7 linked regions of the Homo sapiens genome follow. The protein of the gene in region 3 interacts with the protein of the main gene of each other region in a pairwise test. Each region holds a gene or a part of one and is shown on either strand. Other genes may lie near its edges.

The links.
Region 1: the proteins of AGTR1 (region 3) and DNAJC8 interact in a two-hybrid assay, tested with the Homo sapiens proteins (one large-scale study listed by BioGRID and IntAct).
Region 2: the proteins of AGTR1 (region 3) and ATP13A1 interact in a two-hybrid assay, tested with the Homo sapiens proteins (one large-scale study listed by BioGRID and IntAct).
Region 4: the proteins of AGTR1 (region 3) and ADD3 interact in a two-hybrid assay, tested with the Homo sapiens proteins (one large-scale study listed by BioGRID and IntAct).
Region 5: the proteins of AGTR1 (region 3) and NUP88 interact in a two-hybrid assay, tested with the Homo sapiens proteins (one large-scale study listed by BioGRID and IntAct).
Region 6: the proteins of AGTR1 (region 3) and FAM13B interact in a two-hybrid assay, tested with the Homo sapiens proteins (one large-scale study listed by BioGRID and IntAct).
Region 7: the proteins of AGTR1 (region 3) and PPP1R3F interact in a two-hybrid assay, tested with the Homo sapiens proteins (one large-scale study listed by BioGRID and IntAct).

What each region holds. Positions count from the first base shown.
Region 1 is NC_000001.11:28,202,030-28,205,529, forward strand, and holds part of DNAJC8 (dnaJ homolog subfamily C member 8), read right to left. Parts: intron 3,321-3,500; coding exon 3,229-3,320; intron 1,794-3,228; coding exon 1,718-1,793; intron 1-1,717. UniProt on the Homo sapiens protein: Suppresses polyglutamine (polyQ) aggregation of ATXN3 in neuronal cells.
Region 2 is NC_000019.10:19,650,177-19,653,676, reverse strand, and holds part of ATP13A1 (endoplasmic reticulum transmembrane helix translocase), read left to right. Parts: intron 1-956; coding exon 957-1,082; intron 1,083-1,879; coding exon 1,880-1,988; intron 1,989-3,500. UniProt on the Homo sapiens protein: Endoplasmic reticulum translocase required to remove mitochondrial transmembrane proteins mistargeted to the endoplasmic reticulum.
Region 3 is NC_000003.12:148,704,403-148,707,902, forward strand, and holds part of AGTR1 (type-1 angiotensin II receptor), read left to right. Parts: intron 1-3,500. UniProt on the Homo sapiens protein: Receptor for angiotensin II, a vasoconstricting peptide, which acts as a key regulator of blood pressure and sodium retention by the kidney.
Region 4 is NC_000010.11:110,126,484-110,129,983, forward strand, and holds part of ADD3 (gamma-adducin), read left to right. Parts: coding exon 1-20; intron 21-3,500. UniProt on the Homo sapiens protein: Membrane-cytoskeleton-associated protein that promotes the assembly of the spectrin-actin network. Plays a role in actin filament capping. Binds to calmodulin.
Region 5 is NC_000017.11:5,384,333-5,386,497, reverse strand, and holds the end of NUP88 (nuclear pore complex protein Nup88), read left to right. Parts: intron 1-157; exon of another isoform or gene 158-228; coding exon 229-292; 3' UTR 293-1,665; downstream 1,666-2,165. UniProt on the Homo sapiens protein: Component of nuclear pore complex.
Region 6 is NC_000005.10:138,030,280-138,034,281, reverse strand, and holds the start of FAM13B (protein FAM13B), read left to right. Parts: upstream 1-1,202; 5' UTR 1,203-1,500; exon of another isoform or gene 1,501-1,508; intron 1,509-1,558; exon of another isoform or gene 1,559-1,952; intron 1,953-4,002.
Region 7 is NC_000023.11:49,276,293-49,279,792, forward strand, and holds part of PPP1R3F (protein phosphatase 1 regulatory subunit 3F), read left to right. Parts: exon of another isoform or gene 1-1,102; coding exon of another isoform or gene 1,103-1,236; intron 1,237-3,500.

The sequences.
Region 1 (3,500 bases), on a different chromosome or scaffold from region 3:
CAGTGAGCCAAGATCACGCCATCGCACTCCAGCCTGAGCAACAAGGGCAAAACTCCGTCTCAAAAAAAAAGTAGAATAGAGCTTTCTTCCCACTCCCAAGGGCCCAAGAAAGTGTCATAGCACCCCTAGAACGCAGGATGAGCTGCAGGTTGCAAGAGGAGGACGAAATCAGTAATAATCATCACAACACTGAGGCCCCATTTGTTGGGGACCTCGAGGCTAGACGTTTAACATGGTTTTTTTTGTTGTCATTGTTGTTGTCTTTTGTGAGATGCAGTCTCGCTCTGTTGCCCAGGCTGGAGTGCAGTGGTGCGATCTCGGCTCACTACAACCTCTGCCTCCCGGGTTCACATCATTCTCCTGCCTCAGCCTCCTGAATAGCTGGGACTAAAGGGGCCCGCCACCACGCCCGGCTAATTTTTTGTATTTTTAGTAGAGACGGGGTTTCACCGTGTTAGCCAGGATGGTTTCGATCTCCTGACCTCATGATCCGCCTGCCGTGGCCTCCCAAAGTGCTGGGATTACAGGCATGAGCCACCTCACCCGGCCTTTTTTTTTCTTTTTTTTTTTTTTTTTGAGACGGCTCTGTCACCCAGGCTGGAGTGCAGTGGCACAATCTTGGCTCACTGCAAGCTCCACCTCCTGGGTTCACACCGTTCTCCTGCCTCAGCCTCCTGAGTAGCTGAGACTACAGGTGCCAGCCACCACACCTGGCTAATTTTTTGTATTTTTTTAGTAGAGACAGGGTTTCACCATGTTAGCCAGGATGGTCTCAATCTCCTGACCTCATGATCTGCCCGCCTTGGCCTCCCAAAGTGCTGGGATTACAGGCTTGAGCCACCACGCCCGGCCAGCATATGGTATTTCTAATTGTCACCAAAAGCCGACTATGGTGTGTACTGCTACCAGTGCTTCACAAATAACACTGAGGCTCAAAAAGGTTAAATGATTTTCTAAAAGCCATACAGCTAGCTAGCAGTACAGCTACTCTTTCCACTGCACCTTTCTGCTGCCCCCCAAAACTTGGATGGCTGCTCCAAAGCCAGTACAATGCCTAGCGAGTTGTGTAGGGGTGGCCACTAGGACCTCTACCTCATTATCATTTTTTCTCTTTCCATACATGAAGTGCAACAGAAACAAAGTCATCAACTCTGATTAGCCAGCCCCTAACCATGAGTCCTAAACCCTATAGAAGAAAAGACCGAATGTTGCCACAATCCTTCTGTCCAACCACCTGAAGCATATAACCAGGGTGTCAAAGAAGAGTCAAGTTCAAAGGTTCTAACTCTCTCTGCAGGTAGGACACTGTGGGCACAAGAACTTCAGCATCTACTAACAGATCTCTAAGCAGCACAATACTCTATGCTTACCCCCTAAATTAAAAGTGCAATCCATTTTTCTTGAGCCCACTGGGCAGCTGTGCCTACTACAATCTAAAAAACCATTCAGGGTGAAACTGTTAGTGTGCTGTAAAAAGAAATTAAACAATAATTTTTAAAAATAAATTTTAAAAAAGCCATTCAGGGATCCTCATCGTCCTTGCCAAGGCTACAGAGCTTACAGGAGGCTGAGGCAGGCCCAGCCTCATTCTTCACCTCTCCCACTCTTCCCCACATATCCCACTCCCCTCTGACTGCCCCACTCAGTCCTGGGAGCGCCACAGGAACCAAGCTGCCTTATTCTGGAATTAGAATCCCTGGCCACCTTGGAAATTTACCTCAAAGTTTTTCTGCCACTCTCTTTCCCGTTTGGCTTTTTCTTGAGCTTCAATCTCTTCTTCCCTTTGTCGTTTCCTAGGAGGAAAACCAGATCATAGTATTTATATGATACTTACAGACTGAATTAACCATACAAGGTGGCATCTCCCCACAGAAGCAAGCATATATAGTAAATCAATTCCCTAGAAGTCTACAAAGATGGCTGTCTGGAAAGGGCTCATAGCATTTTCATGAATGTCTCATTCTAAAACACGCAGATCAGACTTGGGCATGGCTGTGGGGAAAGACATAAATATCCTTGTTACACAGATAAAGTAACTAAAGCCCAGCCAAGAGCAATCTGAGGTTTTGGGCTCTTTCAGTGACAAAGCTATGTCGAGAACACAGGCCACCTTATTTCAGCAGAATGACCATTATAAAGCCAAAGTTCTTAAGATCTCTGGACAAAACCCTATCCGAAAACAAAGATATTTCACACAACCTCAACTAGCAAATTTTAGTTACTGGTACCTACCAAGCAACAATATAAAATACATACAGAAACAAAACTCGGCCGGATGTAGCGGCTCATGCCTGTAACGCCAGCACTTTGGGAGGCTGGGGCAGGTGGATCATGTGAGGTCAGGAGTTCGAGACCAGCCTGACCAACATGGTGAAACCCCGTCTCTACTAAAAATGCAAAAATTAGCCAGGCAGGAGAATCACCTGAACCTGGGGAGGTGGAGGTTGCAGTGAGCCAAGATCATGCCATTGCACTCCAGCCTGGGCAACAAAAGCGAAATTCTAACATTTCTGATGTTCAAGAGAAATCATATTTTAGAACATTAAACATTTTGTTACTGATGACACTACAGTACTATACACTCACCAAAGCTGTAGCCACTAGCCCCACAAAAGGTTCTGGCTTCAGTAACAATGGCCTTAATAACTGCTTATTTCACTCCAGGACATCAGGAAGAACACACACAAGGCTCTTGATTATAAATAAACTCCCTGGCAGCATGCAGTGGCTCATGCCTGTAATCCTAACACTTTGGGAGGGCAAGGCAGGCAGATCACGAGGTCAGGAGATCGAGACCATCCTGGCCAACATGGTGAAACCCTGTCTCTACTAAAATACAAAAAATTAGCCGGGCATGGTGGTGTACACCTGTAGTCCCAGCTACTCAGGAGGCTGAGGCAGGGGAACTGCTAGAACCTGGGAGGTGGAGGTTGCAGTGAGCCAAGATCGCACCACTGCATTCCAGCCTGGCTACAGAGCAAGACTGTGTCTCAAAAAAATAAATAAAAAATACACTCCCTAAGGACAGACCTATTCAATAATTCTCAAAAGTCAAAGAAAAAAACTACTTACCCTGGTGATTCAAAAGCTTGACTGTTTTTAGGTAACTATTTTTATAGTCTCTTAAATGGTATACTATATAATTCCCTCATTAGGAAAATCACCAAAGACCAATGTTAGTTAATCTAGGTATTTAAATATGGTTTAAATGAATATACTGATATGTACCTTTCATGCATCTCTTTGGCTTCTCTCTCTTTCCTTTTAATTTCCAGCTCTGCAAAGAGTTTCATTGTCTGTTTATATACAGCTTGTTTGAACTACAGGAAAATCAAGAACAAAAGAAAATCAGAGTAAATATTTTTACCAGCAACTTGAACCATGTACTTTCACCTGGAGTCCAAGATAAAGCAGATTAAAACCTGGCACAGGCTGTGCACCGTGGCTCACATCTGTAATTCCAACACTTTGGAAGGCCAAAGGCAGGAGAATCGTTTGAG
Region 2 (3,500 bases), on a different chromosome or scaffold from region 3:
CCTCCTTGCCCCGCCTCCAGCTTCTACCTTTGGAGACTCCAAATGGCACTCAGTCTGTCCACTGCTGTGGGGACCCACCCAGTCCTGGCTCACGCAGAGCACACGCAGGGCTTACCTGCCCCAGTCCTGGTGTGTCCCTAGCTCTACTCTTTTGCCCTGGTCTTGGGCAGGGCTAGGTGGCATCCTCAGCCCTCTCACCCATCCATCCTCCACAAAGCCCACCCTCCGCCTCCACCACCGGCACATCTGCCGCTTGGCTTCTTCCTGGGCTCTCGTTCTTTCTGCTTGCACCCTACAGCTGCGGATCCTTCCAGAATTTAGCCTCAGGTTGCAGTACTGTGTGCAGAGCCCAGGCCACAGCTCACAGCCTGCATGCTCTGCCCCGTTCCTGCACCTGGAGCCCCCTTCCCAGTGACACAGGTCCTCATCGCCTTCATAGTGGCCACTTCTGAGGCCTTTCCACCCTCTCTGGATTCCATTCTCACCTCCTCTCTCATGGCACTCAGCACTCCGATTTCTGTGACTTTCTTGATCATGCGTCTCCCCTGGTGCAGTGTGAGCTCCCTAAGGCCAGGGGTCTGTGCCCAGTCTGTGGTATGTGGTGGAGCCCCAGTGAGTAAGAGTTCCTGGCTAAACTCCAACATTATTGGGAGAGTCCCTACTTCATTGACTTGGAAGCTGAGCCACAAGGGACTCTGTGATGTGCCCATGTCCGCAAGCAGGACATAGAGCCACATTCGGGGGACCCAGACCCCCCAGTCACTGCCAGATCCCACCCCTCAAGCGTGCCTGGTACCCTCCTGGCATTTCTCCCCTCCCAACCCTCGCATGTGCCCACTACGGGAACAGGGCCTTCCATTGTCCCCTTGGCTCCCAGCGCATGGTCAGAGCTCAGGAAATGCAGAGTGTGGGCAGAGGGAGGGACAGATGGTGAGGGTGCCCCTGTCTGTCCGCAGGCCCGGGAGGTCAAGCGGGAGGCCCTGGAGTGCAGCCTCAAGTTCGTCGGCTTCATTGTGGTCTCCTGCCCGCTCAAGGCTGACTCCAAGGCCGTGATCCGGGAGATCCAGAATGCGTCCCACCGGGTATGGGACGGTGCTCGGCTCCACCCTCTGCATGGGAAATAGAGGCGAGGAGATGACAATTACAGCTTCGTGGTAGGGGTGGGCACCCAAGTCTCACAGGCTGCATGTTTTAGCTGAGCAAGATCATAGCTCAGGTGCTAACATTGCCACTGGCCCAAGGACACTCTGGGACCCGCCTGTGCTGGCTCCTCTCTCCTCCACAGACCACTCCCTTCACTCCCCGCATCATGGGAAGATGGGGGCACTTCTCTCCACTTCCCCGTTCCACCGCCGTCCTGGAGAGAAGGAAGCTGAGGCTGGGGAGTTGGGTGGGGGGCACTGTCTGCCTGTCCTGGTGGCTTCTGGTGGCTTGTGTTTTCTATTTTGGGACTTAGGGTGTCTTTTAGGGTGTAAGGGGTGAGTGAGCCGTCTCAGAGGATGATGGCTCTGGGTCACATGGGTGATGTGATTAGTCCCCACCAAGCCCAGAGGTCATGGTCCCATCCTCCTCTTTGCTGAAATATTACCCCCATGGGCAGCTACCAAGCCAAAAGGGTCCACCTCAGGGGCAGGTTGTTCATTTGTATTGCAAATCCAAGCTAAGGGTGTCTTCAGAAGGACGCACATACACGTGTCATTTGTGTAAAATGACCTGGGTGGGGGTGGGTTGTGGCCCTTGGAAGCCCATTCAGCATCTCGGTTAGAGGCCCAGGATCTCCCACTGTGGCCTACCTTAGAAGGAGACTTGGCAGCCTTGTCTCTGGCCTAGAGCTTGGCCCCAGGGTGCCATGCTGAGCCTCTGCCCCTCTTTACCCAAGGTGGTCATGATCACGGGAGACAACCCGCTCACTGCATGCCACGTGGCCCAGGAGCTGCACTTCATTGAAAAGGCCCACACGCTGATCCTGCAGCCTCCCTCCGAGAAAGGTGAGGCCCTAGCCTGGCCCACAGTGGGGAAGGGGGACCCTGAGTCCAAGAACAGCTCCCATCGCAACAGCCCACCTGTGTACCAGGCCTCAGCAGCACAGTGTCTTCAAATGCCTGGCACCACTAATCACAGCCCTGGCCCACTGGGCACCTCGGACAGCATGTGAGCGTTCACTGGGTCGCAGGTCCCAGGATGTGCGGCATGTAGGTGTTTATTTACCATAATGAGGCGATAGTCTGACTGCCAGCTCGGGTTTCCTGTGCACTCATGGGCAGATACTGCTCCTACCACGCTTACTCCCCATCCTCAGTGTCATCCTCATTTCACACCCTCTTTGGCCCGGCAAGCTGCCCATGTACCGAGTGCTCCCTTCCCGAGCACAGGGACTGCTGGCATCCTCAGCCACAGTTGATGGCAGTTTGCCCAGTGCTCAGCCTGACCAGACCCCAGGCGGAGCGCTCCGTGCGTGTTACTGCGTTGGTCCCTCCACCCCATCCTGCACCACACGGGGTGGCTTGCCTTCCCCACACCACAGAGGAGGAAGCTGGCTGGGTCAGCTCTCGGGGCCCTGCTTTGTAGAGAAGGGACAGAGGCTCAGAAGTGAACCCACTTGCCCAGGTCACTTCCAATCCATGGCTAAGGATTGGAATCCAGACAGCCTGATTCCAGAGCTCAAGGCTCCAACCTCTCCCCAGTGACCTCTTTGAGCAATGCCCTGGATTCAGATTGATGAAGAGGCAGACATAGAGACCCAGCCCCTCCCAGCTAGAGGTGTGGGGCTTACCAGATACCTGCCCCAGAGCTAGAGGTGAAGCCCCTGTGGGCGCACGCAGTTCAGGACCTGCATGAGTGTTGACAGGGCCCTAAGAAGAACCACATGGAGCAGTGTTGCCACAGGGCTGCTGGCAGCAAACATTCACAGGTCTGGGCCAGAGCAGCTTCCGGAACCTCCAGGCCACCTCTCAGAGGACTCGGTCCCTGCCCTCCCTCTGTTCTATTGGTCGCAGGCCTCCCCCTGTCCCAGCCCCAGCTACCGGGGTCTTCCAGGGCCTGGGGATTGTGGGCAGGTGGCATGGAGCGGATGAGCAGAACTGTTGATTGACAAGCGAAGCTGGTCTAGCAACAGCTGCAGCACAAGCCAGGTGGAAGTGTGCTGCCCTTCAGCTTGAGATGGTCCAGGGTGAGCAGGCAGTGCCAGGAGGGCTGGCGGGCCGCCCTTGGCCATCCTCAGCGCCCAGCATCCAAGCCAGGGCCAGCCAGCAAGAAAGGGGAAGTGGAGCAAGAAGATGTTGAGAACTCAGGGGCCCTGTCAGAGTTGGGAGGGGGCCCAGCCCCGAGAAAACAGGATTTCAGAGAGGCCACGGGCGCAGGGATAAATGAGGTGAGGGCCTGGTGTGGGGTTTCCCAAGGAGAGCGCAATAGCCCCCTTCTGTGTGTTTCAGGTTAGGGGGCCTTGCATGAGGTGGGGGCATGGCTTAGCTGGGGTCAGACTGCCCAGGTTCTAATCTGGC
Region 3 (3,500 bases):
TATTTTTTCCCATAAAAATCCAAAATTTTCTGTTTACTTTTTGGTGCTCTCATGCTATAAAGTAAATTCTCCCTTGGATTGGACAAGTTATTTTCTGTTTTCTACATACACATAGACTGTTCAGCATTCCAACTCAAATTACATATTACTTTTTCAGCTTTTAATATAAATGCTTATTTACTACAAGCATGGTTTACAAAAATGTAGTAAAATATAGTTACTAACCAGTCAATGCTCAAGCCAGTGACTCCCCAAATGATTCAGTCCCTGAGCTGTTTCACCCAGTGCAGGTAGATTCTCTGACAGCCATCAGTTGGATCTGTCCGAATATCTCCTGTTTTGACAGGGGCTTATTGATGTTGGTCAAAAGACAGGTGTGTATGGGTTCCCTGGGATCATGTTTGAGGGGAAACCTGTGCCAACAGGACTGAGCAGCCACTTTTTCAATGGTATTGAGAAAATTTGTAGGAGATAAAATTTCACCAGCTCCTTGAATCTAGAACTGTAGATATTCAGGTAGCACTGACATTACAACATCTAATTTGTAAGTTATGGGTTAGGGCAAAATCAATCCAGGGCTGCCATCATGACAAGTAGTGGAAGTTTGAAAGAAGGAGAAATACCCAAAAGATATCTTACACATAGCAGGCAGAGTTTCTTAGTACTAATAAAAAATAAAGTACCAGTGATCACCCTCTATAGCCCCTAAGAGTCCCCTGGTTTCACTAAGCCCCAATATTTGTGGCTGTGGCTGAATGCAATCTGCACAAGGTTTTCTTTTTAACAGTTGGAAAAAATCTCATAGCATAGCATTTTTTTCTTTTTAACAGTTGGAAAAATTCTCGTAGCATAGCATTTTTTTCTAGTAAATTTCATATACTTAACAACTTTATCAGCACATATATTTTCCTTCACACTTACAATTTCATCAACACATATACTTTACTTTTTGACTCAAATTCTTCTTGCCATCAATTCAAATGCTCCTGCCCTTAGAATGAGAATTTTCCATTAACCCAGCTTTAATAATCTAACTCTCCCATTCAAATGATGTCACTTCATATAAAACACATTTTATCATGATGTCTCCCAGCCCTCAGTTACACAGTTAATTGCTGCCACTTTATCATGAATGAAAAAGATGTGATTCTTGGGTAATGATTTCTTGAGTATGTCCTGGTCTATTATCTACTGAGTTACCAGAGTGGATTTTTGAGAGAACACACAGTTATTCCTATTCCTTTTAATTTCCATTAACTTAAGCCATATGATAGAACATTACAGTTGTTATATATTTTGTATAAATATAAAATGTAATATATAATTTATATATTTTAAAATATTTAGTGGCAAGTAAAGATAGTAGTAAGTGAAAAAATCACTGTATAACATATGAATCGTAAGTGTGATCCCATGTATGTGTATACCTGGTAGATGCTTGTCAAGGTGCCATTAAGGTCTTGGGTTATTGGCATCTTAATGAAATTCATTTAATTATGTTAGGATTGATTTGTTAGTAAAATCACTTACATGTTTTTTAAATGCATGCATATCTGTGGAGCCAATAAGAAAAATTAGGAACAATATACAACAAATCTTAAGAGCTTTTGAGGATGATTTTTTTTCTTTCTTTCTTTTGTATGTACCTACAAAATTTTCTATAATGGATCTCTATTGATTTTATATTTTTTACTTTCTATTTGTCTTGGAATTTCTATTACTTTATTTATAATTCACTCTAGATTTTAGGTACTAGACAACTACTATTAACTCTCTGGAGAATGGTACTATAAATCTGACCCTTTCTGTCATTTTTTTTTCCTGTGGTACACTAGTGTCTCACAAAGAGTCCACAGAATTCACACGGTCATGATATTTTATAGAAGAAATCATTTTATGGGAACTTTCTTTTGTTAATAGATCCTTCCAATGCTAACATTATTCTGTATAACAGTGCTAAAGTTGGTATGCCTAAATGCTAAACTTGGTATGCTAAAGTTGGTTTAAAAATTAACCTATATACAATCTTCTTGAATAACTCTTCAACTTTAAATAAATTTCTTATTTAAAAAATCCTCCTATATATAATTAAAAATACTGATGAATTTGACTACATAAAAATAAATGCTTATACAGTAAAAAGTACCATAAACAAAGTTATCATCTAAACAAGAAACCTGGGAAAGCTATTTGCCAGCCATTACATGTAAAATTTAAGTTTCCTTAACATAACATGAGCTCTTTAATGTGAGAAACAATAAACAACCTAATTGAAACATGAGCAAAAGCCATGGCTGAGAAAACTCGTAGAAGAATTACTATGGAAACAATAAGAAAATGAAAAGAAGTTCAACCTCATTCATAATTAACGAAATGCAAGTCAAAACAAAGATATACCTTTTACTTATCAGATAAAGAAAAAATGATTTGATAAAACCCAGATTCTTGGTATTATAAATTGGTATAACCTTAACGGAGGACATTTTATGAATATCTATCAAAAACTTAGCATATACAAACAATTTGGTTCAACAGTCTGTTAGAATTTATTATATAGATACATTCATATAAGTACAAAAGTGCATATATGTAAATATTATTATTGGGACATTTTTGTAGCAGCCAAAAGGAAAACTGAAAAAAAAGATTAAGGCTCATTAATAGCAGACTGGTTAAATAAACTATGTGTGAGTACAATGAATGAAATATTGTACAGCCATCAAAATGAATGAGGTAGATTTATATATGCTGATGTAGGAAATCTGCTAGCCATCATAAGTAAAATAAATGAAACAAAGAAGAAAATACTATGATGTACAAAAAGAAAAAACTATAGATATACATATTTATATGCATGTGTATGCATTTTTTATGAATATACATATTTATATGCATGTGTATACAAGTCCTAGAAGGAGACATAGGTAACTATTAGTAGTACCTCTGGGAAGTAAATGCAGAGAAAAGTAATAGAGGGTAAGGATATGTTTACTTTTATTTTACATCCTTCTGTAACTTGACATTTATACGACGCGTTAGCATTACTTCTGGGAAAAAGAAAAACAGAAAAGGTAATCTTTTAAAAAGGTATTTTTTAAATTATGGTACAATAAAATGTGCATAAGCTTTATACTAAGTAATAGAATCATTTAAGTTTAGCTGTAGATTCACAAGTAAAAATCCAATCTATTTTCATATTCTTACATTTATAGACATTTCTTACATGTCTATAGAAAGAAATGGCTAGGAATGAGACTGCACTATTTTACCCTAAAACGTTCTTTTTCTCTTTGCCTAATGTATATCTACAAGGGCATTGGGGAAGATGTTGACCACAGGCAGGAAGATGATGAGATCCTGTGCCCACCACTTAATGCAGTCTAGCTCTATATAAGGAAAAATATGTTCTTGATGTGAACCAGATGGTTTCACTCCCTTCAAAAACACTCTTAAGATGCAGTGTGGAAGCTTACTCTGTAAATTAAAAAATAAAAACCTGA
Region 4 (3,500 bases), on a different chromosome or scaffold from region 3:
TTGTGGATAAGCCACCTTCTGTAAGTTTATGAAGTAGTATGATCTTTGTTTTTTATTTACCACATTAATTTCATTGATTTTTAAATATGAATATTTATTTTTACTAAGGTTAATATAAGCACAAGTTAAAAAGTCAACTCACAAGATTTAAAATGTCACCCACAATTCCCAGTTTCCAGGTGCAGCAACTTTCTGTTCTTTTCATTGCTTCTAATGTTTACTTTGGTGTTTCTGGTTAGTTAGTTGAGATGAGGTCTCACTCTGTTGCCCAGGATAGTCGTGAACACCTGATCTCAGGTGATCCTCCAGCCTTGACCTCCTGAAGTATTGGGATTACAGGTATAAACCACTGCTCCTCGTCCTCCTTTGATGTTTCTAAAGAGCATCTTCTGCTTTTTCTTGGTCTATCAGTTTTAGACCTTGACTATTTTTCATCAAATCTGTGTTATCCGTTATAAGAAGTACCATTGTTTTATATGTCACTAAAAGAGAAAAAACACTGCCAATTATAATTGTTCCCAATTTCAGAGATGGAAAAAGTTCATCTTAGAATTAATGAAATATTTTTGAAAGATGGGGATTTAGCCTGTTTATACAGTGCTTCCCTTTTTCCCTCTCCCCATTCTCCCAGTAAGGATACATCACAGTTTTTGTTTTTTGTTTTTTGTTTTTTTCTGTTAGATCAGCTTTCGTTATTTATATTACTACATGTTTGCTGCTAAGCCAGGTAGTATTTCCTTTCTTACATAAGTCACCCCTCCCTACTCTCACCTTGCCTTTTTTTCATTGGCTTATTATTTGGGGTACATTGGCTTAGTTCTTCCCGAACTTTTTAAAAGAATTATAAAGTCCCGGCTGGGTGCAGTGGCTCACGCCTGTAATCCCAGCACTTTGGGAGGCCGAGGCGGGCAGATCACGAGGTCAAGAGATCAAGACCATCCTGGCCAACATGGTGAAACCCCATCTCTACTGAAAATACAAAAATTAGCTGTGCGTGGTGGCGTGCACCTGTAGTCCCAGCTACTCAGGAGGCTGAGGCAGGAGAATCACTCGAACCCGGGAGGCAGAGGTTGCAGTGAGCCAAGATCATGCCACTGTACTCCAGCCTGGTGACAGAGCGAGACTCCGTCTCAAAAAATAAGAATAACATAAAATCTGTCCTAATATTATTTTCCACAGGGTGAAAGTCAACAGGTAATCTCTCTGTTCCAGCCCCCCTTCATTCTGATCCAAATCTAAATTGGTTGCTCTCAGGCCAGCTGCACAGGTTCATCTGGAGGATTCCTGTGCTGCTGATCTATATTGTATTCCGTTTCCTGTATCTTGTGTCTTCTGCTTTCTTGATTTCCTCCTTTACTGTAGAACGCACCCTCTAATAGCTTTCCGAGAAAAGGATACATAGGTGGTAACAGTCTGAAATGCCTTTATTCTATCTTCAAATGTGCATATAATGGATATAGAATAGTTTAGAAATAATTTTCCCCTGAAATAAGAAAAGCATCATTCTGTTCCCTATTTTATTGTTGAAGTAGGAAGGCATTGGAATTCCTGAACCTTTGTTTAGGATTTTTTTTTTTTTTTTTTTTTTGCTTTTAGACCCTTTCTGCATCCCTGCTGTTCTGAAATTTTATGATTGTGTGCTGATCTCTTTTTAGTCTTTTTTCTAAGTAATTAGTAACCCTTTTCAATCTCCAGAGTCATATCCTTCAGTTCTGGAAGTTTTTTAAAAGTGTTTCTTCAAGAGTGTTTTCTTCCCATTTCTTTTTCTGTCAGTATATTATGTTAGTTTGGATGTTGGGCCTCTTTGAGCCTCTGATTTTTTTCTTTTCTCTCCTACTTGCCATCTCTTTATCTTTGTATCCTACTTTCTGGGAGAATGTTTTCTAACCCTTTTAATTTTTTATTTTGATGTTAACTTTTTTAATTTATTTTATTTTATTTATTTTTTTTGAGATGGAGTCTCGCACTGTTGCCCAGGCTAGAGTGCAGTGGCGCGATCTTGGCTCACTGCAAGCTCCGCCTTCCTGGGTGCACGCCATTCTCTGCCTCAGCCTCCCAAGTAGCTGGGACTACAGGCGCCTGTCACCGTGCCCGACTAATTTTTTTTGTATTTTTAGTAGAGACAGGGTTTCACCGCGTTAGCCAGGATGGTTTCAATCTCCTGACCTCGTGATCTGCCCGCCTTGGCCTCCCAAAGTGCTGGGATTACAGGCGTGAGCCACCACGCCCAGCCAACTTTTTTATTTTTAATAAGAGTTCTTATTCCCTGAATGTTCCTTTTTAATAACATCCTGATCTTTACACTTTCTCTTATTGCTCTAAGGGTATCAATTTTAAATTTTCTTCATTTGCCTTTGTTGTCTTTGTCTATTCTGAGTTGTTCCGTATGTCTGTTTATATGGAAGAATGAGACATTAAAGCATATCAGAAGCTCTGGGTATACACAGAGCTCGGGGATTGGTGGGCTTCACTGTAGGGTGATTGGATGTGGACCAGGTTGTTTCTCTGGGGAATCCCCAAACATTATTCTCTGTAATTCTTTTATCTGGGACTATTTAGTTTATCTGGAAAAGAACTCCAGTCTCCTGCCAGTTTCCAACCATCATTCTAGGAGCCTGCAACTGTATTTTGTGTCCCCTAGTTAGTTTTTCTTTCTTTCTTTCTTTCTTTTTTTTTTTTTTTTGAGACGGAGTTTTGTTCTTGTTGCCCAGGCTGGAGCGCAATGGCGTGACCTCAGCTCACGGCAACCTCCGCCTCCCGGGTTCAAGCCATTCTCCTGCCTCAGCCTCCTGAGTAGCTGGGATTACAGGCATGCACCACCATGCCCGGCTAATTTTGTATTTTTAGTAGAGGCAGGGTTTCTCCATGTTGGTCAGGCTAGTCTCGAACTCTGGACCTCAGGTGATCTGCTCGCCTTGGCCTTCCAAAGTGCTGGGATTACAGGTGTGAGCCACCGCGCCCAGCCTAGTTTTTCTTTCTCAAGCCTCTGATCTTCTGCAGAGATGAGAGAGAGGGAAATGCTTGGCTCTGTGGAATAGGGAAGGGAACCTGGGAATCTGTTTCCTATTCAGACTTTGAACATGTTCCTCTATTTTCACCTTTTCCTTACCACCACCTTCTATGGTACCTATTGCCTCTAGTTTATGGGCCTTACCAGACCTCTTCAGGGCAAATAAGCATGCTTCTCATTTGCATCCTTTTTTTCAGGACTGAGGCTTCAACTTTCTCAGCTCTGCTACCTGCTGTTCCACTTGCATTCCAGCTTCCAAAAATATGTTAACATTTCTCATCCTTTGTTGTTTCATCTCACATTCTTTTGTCCTTAAGGGTGTTTTGTTTTGTTTTTTTCTATTCCTTTACTATCATTTTAGTGGGGTTTTGGGAGGGATGAAAAATAAATACATGGGTTCCATATGCCAACTGCAACTGAAATTCTCATTATTTCCTTTCCTGGAGAAAACAGCTACAAGCTTATTTTCGTAACAGATTTAAAGAACTAC
Region 5 (2,165 bases), on a different chromosome or scaffold from region 3:
GTGGCCAAAGGTATTTTACAGTAATTATGTTCAAAAATATTTCCAGTACTTGCACCGTTTGCCACCTTAAATGAATAGTGAACACTATTGCTATCCACCTGAAACCTTCAGCTGTTAATTTTAGCAAAGCAGTTCTTAGATGTTTCAACATTACCAGTTTAAATTCTTAAGAATCCATATAAATGGTTTATTATAATTCCAAAAGTGAGTGACTTTACAATTTTACAGGGGTGAACATATAAGGGAAATGGTGAAGCAAATCAATGATATCCGCAATCATGTAAACTTCTGACACCACCAGGAGCTGACTCACACCTGAACTGAACACCATTGAAGGCTTAAACCCATATTGTAAAACAGGTAGAATTATCTAATTTATAAAAAGGTGTTTTGATGACCTTTGGTGTGGTTCATCTTTTTAAATATGTTGTTTTATAATAATTGAGTAAATGCTTTTATTTAAAATTTGGAATGTGCTTTATAACTCAAGCCTACAGTTGTGTTCAGCAAGGACTCAGGATTATTTCACACTGCACACTGCCAGAACCTCCCTGAACCCTATTGAGTTTTCTCCATATTTGAGCAAGTTAGTTATTCTTGTGAGCTGTGTTTTAAAGTAGCAGCACCAGAAACATGACTCTGAAGAGGGATAGAACCCTAGGATTCAAAGGAGAAGACCACACAGTGTACTTGGCAGCAGCTTTTTTAATTTGAACACTTTCTTCTTGAGGACACACCTTCAGTACAGTTAACAAATGGTTACACCTGAAATCTGCTGAGAGCAGAGCTCAAGATCCACAATTGCAAAGGCCACTGCTGGCTCACTTCCTCACAAGCTGTATTACCTTTCAGAGCTGAGTGAGGCTGTGCTCTACGTCCCAATACTTGTTACTGAGTGGACATGAGGTGCAAGTTTAGCACCTTAAAGGGAGAAAAAAATAGGTTAGTATGCAGAATGTGATTTTGTCCTCACTTCACCTTAAGTCATCTTTTTACACTTGCCAATGTGAGTTCTGAAAGGTACTACTATATCTGCTTAGAAATGGCTGAGTGACTGTCAATTAAAAGCCACATGATAAGGTAGGTTACAGGTAAGAGGTAAATCAGGTTAGACATGCATGAGAACATGTAGGCACAGACTGAATATAAGCACAGGAACACTCGTGAAACCCAACTGAGCTTTTCTTTTGCCTAGAAGGGCTAAATCCTGCCTTCTACATCAGTTCCCATTTATGCTGAAAACCCAGTTGAAAGAATTGTTTCCTACCTGGACAGTGACACAGTAGTTTGTTTCATACCAGAAACACATTGCTAAACAAAACTTAAGAGTCTCAGTTTGGGTTTTTCTACAATAAAGTGAATTCCAACAGTTGGCATTTGCCACAGTAGAGACCACTAACCATTCCCTAATTGTGATGATTTTATTACCCAGCACCATCTTCTGGAGAAAAATATCTGTAAGGTGCTCAGTCTCAGCAGAACACTTCACTGCAAGCTCTAGTTCAGTCAGTTCAGAAAGGCTGTGAATTGCCCACCCTGATTTACAGCACTAATTTTAATAATCTGAAGACAAATTCGCTTGGGGCTTATCCAAGGGACTAGTCTTAAACCTACGTAATTTAAATTGATTGCATTTTATAATTAATAAAATCCCCTGTAACTCAATAGTTATATGTTTCCTTTATCTAAACCATGTAGCACTCTTTATAAAGGGACTTTAAACCAATTAAAATAATGTTTCATGTGCGGCAAGCCTTTAGTACTATTTCCATAATTGGTATTTATTTTTAAATTCATAACCATGAATGCAAGACTACAATAATAACCCAAGAGATGAGGTATGTAGTACTTATCATTTGTCCTATGGAAGACAGAAGTACAGAAGATCTTTAGGGTAAGTCCATAGTGACCTCATTTATAACAAAGACAATTCACTTTAAGTTGATGGTGGCGTTATGTGAACAAAACAATCTACCTAGTTCACTAACTCCCAGAAGGCTCTTTCAGGTACCCTGCTGTTATGCAACCAGTCTCAAAAATGATTTGAAAACCATCTTACTTTTGAACCTCCTGGATGATGAATCCATCCACTGGATATTCCTGGGACAGTACTCTCAGCAGGTATTGATGAACATGAATCAATTCTTTGTGCTTTCTGTAGCACT
Region 6 (4,002 bases), on a different chromosome or scaffold from region 3:
AATGAGTGAGTGAATCTGAATTAAGATTTAACTGCCCTGAGAGTAAGTGTTGGTTCTGGTCATTAGAATCAGTTGCCTCGTTCCTGGACAGAGTTCCTGGGAGCCTCATAGAACATTCTTATTCAGATTCTTCTGGTTTTAGACTCTTTGTGGACCCCACCCTTCGGTTATGACAGCATTAACTGGGTATGTGACACTTAGGTTACACATGGTTTACTCTCTCTGATGAAATGTGGGAGACACTGTGGCCTCTGTAGCCCATTTACAGATCATTTCATAGGGTAACTTTATTTTTTTCAAATCTTGTCCCAAGTTCTATGAGGGTTCTTGTTTTACATTTTCCAAGTTACTAACTTCCAGCTCAGGTAGGTAAGGGACAACTGAATTGTGGTGGCTGCTATTTTTTGTGCAGGTGTTGATCTACCGGCTGTCAAGGAGTCCAAATGGAAGATCTCAAAGCCCTTAACAGACTATAACAAAGAAGAGATTGGCTGAATATTCATACCCTTGTGAGTTCAAGGGAGTTGTAGGGATGGTCTGGGTAGCCATGCAAGTTCAGAGAGCTCATTCTTTCTGCCTCCTTTCAGCTCTGCCTCCGCAGCTGGCTGATTTTAGTATACGAAGCTCCCTGTAAGCCCGCAGCCTATCGACTTCCACAGTCCCAGACTAAGGCACCGAAGCCTTACTGTTCTCTCTGGAGTCTAGGTCAGGTCCTGAGGTGAAGGGGTAGGGTGGGGGCGGGCAGGACGCAGGTGCAGCCCCGTGGTCCCGGATCTAACTCACATCTCTGGGAATGGGAACCGAAGTCACCGCTTAGGTCTCCCCCAGCGGTTTTCGGTTCAGGTCTCTGTGCTCCTCACCTGGATATGGGCGCCCTGGGGGCCTGGCTTCCTCCGCAGAGACCAGAAGCGATCTCTGTGTTCCGGATTTTCCCTTTATCTTTCCTCTCCCCAGTGTCCTCTCTGTTTCCCAACCTCCCCATACCGAGGACCCCACAACCCGCCCCGGGATGGCGCCTGGCTGCTCGCACCCTAATTCAGGACCCCAATTGGTGGGAGAGGAACCGCGGTCCTCAAGCTTGCAGGACACAGGGCCGCTGCCCGGAATGCTGTGGGGGTGGGGACCCTCGCCGCCCCGCCCCCACCAGCGGCCTGCCCCGCCCCCTCCCACGCACGTCACGTCCGGCCCGGCCTCCGCCCGCCAGCCGCTCTCCTCCCGCTCGCCGTTAGGGAGGCTCTGCACCTCAGCCGCCGCCTCTGTCGCCACTCTCTCCCCCTGTTCCGCGTCTGCGTCGCCACCACCGCCGGGGGTATCCGGGGGGTCGCTTACCGGGCTGGCCCCGCGCCACAGCCGTAGCTTTAACCTCCCGTCAGCGGCCGCCCCAGGAAGAGGCTTCTCGGCCGCGGAGCCACTTGGGGCCTCAGTTCTCGCCCTCTTGCCGTCGCCGCGGGTCCTGGAGAAGCGGCCGCGGCCAGGGAACGGGGCATCGCGGTTCCAACGGTAGGTAAACGGGCGGGTACCCGGATCTGCGCATGCGCGGGTTGCAGGTCGCCGCGGCCCTTCCCCTCCTGTTGCCCCCCAGCGCCGCCTGCCACCCGCGCCTGCTCTCGGGCGTTGCGTTTCGGGATGTGGAGGACTCTAGCAGGTGGGGCGTTCCGTGGAGAGGGCCCCCTTTCCGCTGGAGAAAGAGGAAGATGAAGCCGTGTCCCTGGCTGCCGGGGGGTGTGGCAGCCTTGGATTTGCAGCGGCTGCAGTGCAGTTGAGCGGGCGTGCCCCTCACCTCCAGCCCCTCCAGAGTAGATGGCGCGACACCCCACGTTTCTTTGCTGACCTCTCCTGCCCGCTGGCGCTGCGCCTCTTCCCCGCCCACTTCCTTCATGCTGGGCAGTGAAGTTGATGTAGAAGAAAAAGGAGTGTGTTTTATTCTGGGCTCAACTGCGCCCCTTTTTAAGGTCACGTGAGATGAGTGGTTGCGGACTTCCTTAAATCGCTCAGAGAATATAGCCAAAATTGGGCTGTTGGTGCACTGGGGCCTTGTCTAGAATGCGCTCTGCATAGGCCAGGCTGGAGGGGGACACTTTGTATAGCATTAGGGTTCGCGTGGCACGCCTGGTTTCCTAGATGAGGTTGTAGGAATCGGTTGGCACATTTGCGCAGTGGGAAACTGTTAAGCCCTTTTTGTTTGTAATCAGTTAAAATCAAACTGACTTTTAGAAAGACGGTGGATTATTTCATTTGGTTCCCCGTTTCGCCTTCTAATCAGTGAAAAAAGTTGGGCATTTACTTTGAAGGATCTGATAATCTAAAATGGTAGCCAGAATCATTACCAGTAGTAATGCAGACTATTAACATTAACTGGGGTGCACCTGTTTAGAGAGACAGACATTAAAGGGTGGTTTTGAATTATTTGTCTTTTTAGAGCTGGGTTAGTGTGAGGCTATTTTCAACCTTCCTTTTTTGGTAACCTTGAAATGCTTGTTGGCCTGGTTTTCTCACAGGTACTGTGCATTTACTAAGTGCTTGTTGATGGAATTGAATGGACTGATAATTATTTGTATATCCATTGGGAGCGCCTTCTTACTTTTTTTTTTTTTTCCTTGAGACAGTTTCGCTCTGTCGTACAGGCTGGAGTGCAGTGGAGCGATCTCGGTTCACTGCAACCTCCTCCTCCCGGATTCAAGCGATTCTCCTGCCTCAGCCTCCTGAGTAGCTGGGACTACAGGCGCCCGCCACCACGCCTGACTAATTTTTGTATTTTTGGTAGAGATCAGATTTCACTAAGTTGGCCAGGCTGGTCTTGAACTGACCTCAAGTGATCCGCCTGCCTCAGCCTCCCAGAGTTCTGGGATTACAGGCGTGAGTCACCGTGCCTTGCCCCCTTCTTACTTTTTTAATCCGTGCTGCTTTTAAAATTGGAGTAATAGTTTCTCCAGTTTAATTTTATTACTAATTTAGACACGTGTGTGACACAGCTTAAGTTCTTGGAAAATGTAGAAGGGCATATTGCAGTGGCATAATTCATTGGGTGGTGTAAATGTTAGTTTTTTTTATTAGAATGTCATTGTTTTAGGAGAGAAAATGGCTGAAATGAATCTGTTGACTTGTCAGTGTTTCCCCACCAATAAAATAACTGCTTTTATAATCAGTTATGAATAACCTCAATCCATCGCTGCATAGCTCCTCCATCATCGTATTCAAATTTTAAATTTGGGGACTATAATAGTGTAAATTACTGTTTTGTTTTTTTTTTTGAGACAGGGCATCACTGTCGCCCAGGCTGGAGTGCAGTGGTGCAATCTCGGCTGACTGCAACCTCTGCCTCCCAGGTTCTAACGATTCTTCTGACTTAGCCTCCCGAGTAGCTAGGACTACCGGTGCTTGCCACTGCGCCTGACTAATTTTTGTATTTTTTGTAAGACGGGGTTTTGCCATGTTGCCCAGGCTGGTCTCAAACTCCTGACCTCAGATGATCTGCCTGCTTCTGCCTCCCAAAGTGCTGGGATTACAGGTGTGAGCCACCTTGCCACCTTGCCCAGCCTTACGTTCAATTTTTTTTTTTGGGGGGGGGGGACGGAGTTTCATTCTTGTTGCCCAGGCTGAAGTGCAAATTTTAGTGTGTAAATTATACCTTAATAAATGTATTTTTTTAAAAACCCACTGGTGGACTTTGGAGAGCTTATACTCTGTTGGTAGAAACAGACATTAAACAAACACAAAATGAATATGTAATAAAACTTGTGGTAAGCCAGGCTCACGCCTGTAATCCCAGCACTTTGGGAGGCTAAGGCTGGAGGATCAGTTGAGCTTAGGAGTTTGAGGCCAGCCTGGGCAACATAGGGAGACTCTCTTTACAGAAAAAAAAAAAAAAAAAGCCAGGCATGGTGGCATGCTCCTGTTGTCCCAGCTGCTCAGGGAGCTGAGGTGGGAGGATTGCTTGAGCCCAGGAGTTTGAGGCTGCAGTGAGCTGTGATGATGCCATTGCATTCCAGCCTGGGGGACAGA
Region 7 (3,500 bases), on a different chromosome or scaffold from region 3:
GGTACTTTTCAAATATTTCTTTGATCTGCTGAACAACTCACTGATGTAGGTATTATTATCCCCTCCTTAGAGATGAGGTAACTGAGGCACAGAGAGGTTAAGTAACTTGCCCCAGGTCACACAGCTGATAGGTGGCAGAGCTGGAATTGTTCAAAATTGCATATCCTAACCCTTTATTGAGTTGTGAAATCAATTTACTGGGTTTCAACAAGCATTAAAAAGAAAAAGGAAATAGCATAAGAAATGCCAGTGTATCACCACATGCAGTAAAGGTAAGTATTGTTTCACTCGAAGAACAACCATTTTTCAGTTATTTATATGTCTGTTTACACGTGTGGGTGTGCTGGGTTATGATGTAGAATGGATTTCTTACTATGGGTCGTGGCCAAAGAATGAAGTCATGGCTGTTGAAGAAGCTCATGGCACGAGAAACTGCTCTCCCTCTACCCCACTGGATCACCCGCAAGTCCCAGAGTTGAGGCTGACACACTTGTTGGGGAAGGCAAAGCAGTGCCCCACATAACTTGGTGGCTTTCACAGCCACCTTCAAACCCTGTTCTTTTCAGAAAGCAGATGGCTCAGGGTAACTGCAATTCTGAGTATCGTGGGGCAGGTTTCTGAAGCCACTCATCCCCCCGGAAAGTCAGCGTTATCTTCAGGTTGACTACATGGGAGCCGGGGTCTGCTGAGTTTCCCTTTGGGTTTCAGTGCCTGACCCACTTTGGGCTGGCAAAATTCTTTGAAAACATGAATGCTGGGGGTGCTCCAGAGGACTCGGGTGGTGGTGGCAATGGCAGTCTGTGACTGCTCTGAAAGTCTGCTTTGCTTTTCTCCACAGGGCTTGTCAGCCCTCACCCGCTCGCTTACTCTGTGACTGGCGAATCACCTTTCTTGGCTTTCTTGGCTGGCCTAGGCCGGGGCCAACACCACCTCTTTCCAAATCCTCACCCTCTGGTCTCCTCGGGGCCTATCAGCTTGGCAGCCATTGTGTTTCCTGATGGCCGGAGGAATTTGCACGCCCAGGAGACTGGCGTGCAGGCCTGAGATGGCCCCTTTTAGTCGACACCAGCTTGACTAGTGCTCACTAGCACCCAAATGATGCATGTCCAAGATTTTCCAGATCTGTGTGCCCTGGCCCCTATGGCTCACTGCCCTTGAGGGGATGCCACGTGGTACTTGTGGGGCTGGTGCCAAAAGAACAGGTTTCCTTCTTGAAAACGAGCAGGCATACTGCAGGTACAGTTTTGTTCTTAATCTTCTCCCTCCCCATTTTTCTAAGAACCCCTCTTCTCTGTTACCGATCAGTGAGTCAGTATACATTTGTACTTGATTTCTCTTACTATCCTCATGTTGATTGAAGTCATAGCTGCCCTTGAGTTTTTACTGTGAAAGACGGTTCAAAGATAACTTGTTTCTTTTTAAGCCCACAATTTCAAACTCTCTTCAAAGTGGAGCCCTCCTGGAGTGTTTGTTACCAGCGTGGTTGTGTAGTCAGTGAGTGTAGAGATGCAGTTCCTTGAGTTTTAGTTTTTGCATTTGTAAAAAGGAAGGGTGTTGTTTTGAAGGATAGATGTGAAGGTTTTCAAATGCCTTGGTGTGTCAATGAGAGGGGCCCATGGTGGAGGAGGTGAACAATACATGCTTGTGCTTTCTGCTTTCATATCTGACTTTGGAGAACGACTTGTTTGCTTCTGTCGATGTTGTGGATCTTGGGATTGGCTCAATGGCGTGACCTGCTTTTTGGATGTTCTCGCCCTCCTCAGCCATGGAAAGGGTGCTCTGGGGGCTGAAGGATTGATTGTGTATTTGTTTTTCTTTCTCCTTCCTCCAACTGAATTGTGGAGTCCTTTACCTGCTGGCTAGCTGATTCCTGAGTGTTCTCCTTTTTCTGTCTCACATCTATGACTGCAGTGGCTTTTAGAAGCCTGTTTGTAATATATGTCCGGACTAGGCCAGATGGAGGAGAAGGCTTGCCTGCTACTGCGCACAGGTGGGAGGGCTGGCTTTCTGTCTGTCTGTGGGCCTTCTTGAAGAGGCTTGGTTTAGAAGATCCTAGGAGGAGGATGTTTTCTGTCATGAAGGACTATGGTAACAAAAAGAAGTAAGTTAGTGCAGCCTGGCAGAAATTGTGTTGAAACAAAAGTCCAAAGACCTGGATTTTAGGACCACGGAGGGGATTGGTGTGAGACCAAGCTGGTTTGCTCTGAATCTCTCTTTCTCATCTGTGATGTGTGGGAGGTGGCAGCTGGGCTCCCAGAGTCACCCACCCTAGGCCCTGTAGTATTCTGATTCAAGTACCTCTGGTGGGATTTGTGAGTCCTAGACAGTAGAGAAAGACAGACGGTCCCTTCTAGACTCTAGATCCGTATATATGGTTCAAATGTTCTCCCCGAGGGTGTTTATAGAAAGCAGTTCTTGCAGCCATTCTGTGTCTAGTGGCCTCCTAGCCACGCATGTCCCAGGCCCATGGAGGTAGGGAAATGGGGAATGAATATGTGGGCAAAGGCAGGTCCAAAGAAAAGCCTGCATGAAGGAGGAGGGAGGGATCTTGTCTAGTATTGATGCCTCCCTCTATCTACTTCTAGAAAGGATGGAGATGGGTTGGGTAAGACCCCAGTCTCCCTCATCCAAGAAGCAGCAGCTGACTGGGTAAGAGCCAAAAGGCCTGGGTTGTGATGTGAAGTGTATGACCTTGAGCCATTTACTCAGCCTCTGTTTTATCCTCTGTAAAATGGAGACAATAGTACTGCCTGCTTCAGAGGATTACAAGTACCTGTCTCATAGGGTGATTGTGAGGATTGAATTAACACATGTTGCCCAGGCACCGTGGCTCATGCCTGTAGTACTAGGACTTCGGGAGGCTGAGATGGGAGGATCGCTTGAGTCCAGGAGTTCACGACCAGCCTGGTCAACGTAGGAAGACCCCATCTCTAAAAACAAAATACAAAAAAACAAAAACAAAAACCAAAAAACCCCAAAAACTTCTTTAAAAAAATGTGAAGCACTTAGAACAGTGTGTAATGCCATAGTAGGTACTATGTATGGGTCAGATGGTGATACTCGTTTCTGTGAAGGTAATTGGTTATGGGTTTTCAAAAAGTTTCAACCAGGCCGGGCACGGTGGCTCATGCCTGTAACCCCAGCACATTGGGAGGCCGAGGAGGGTGGATCACCTGAGGTCAGGAGTTTGAGACCAGCCTGGCCAACATGGCGAAACCCCGTCTCTATTAAAAATACAAAAATTAGCTGGCTGTGATGGTGGGTACCTGTAATCCCTGATACTTGAGAGGCTGAGGCAGGAGAATCACTTGAACCTGGGAGGCAGAGGTTGCAGTGAGCCGAGATCATGCTATTGCACTCCAGCCTGGCGACAGAACGAGACTCCATCTCAAAAAAAAAAATTTTTCAACCATTGTCAGAAGTATCAAGAATGTCACATTGCCTCTTAGGAAGAAAAAGGTGTGGGCATTCGCCCCAGCTCCTCTCAGGTTTTAGTCAAT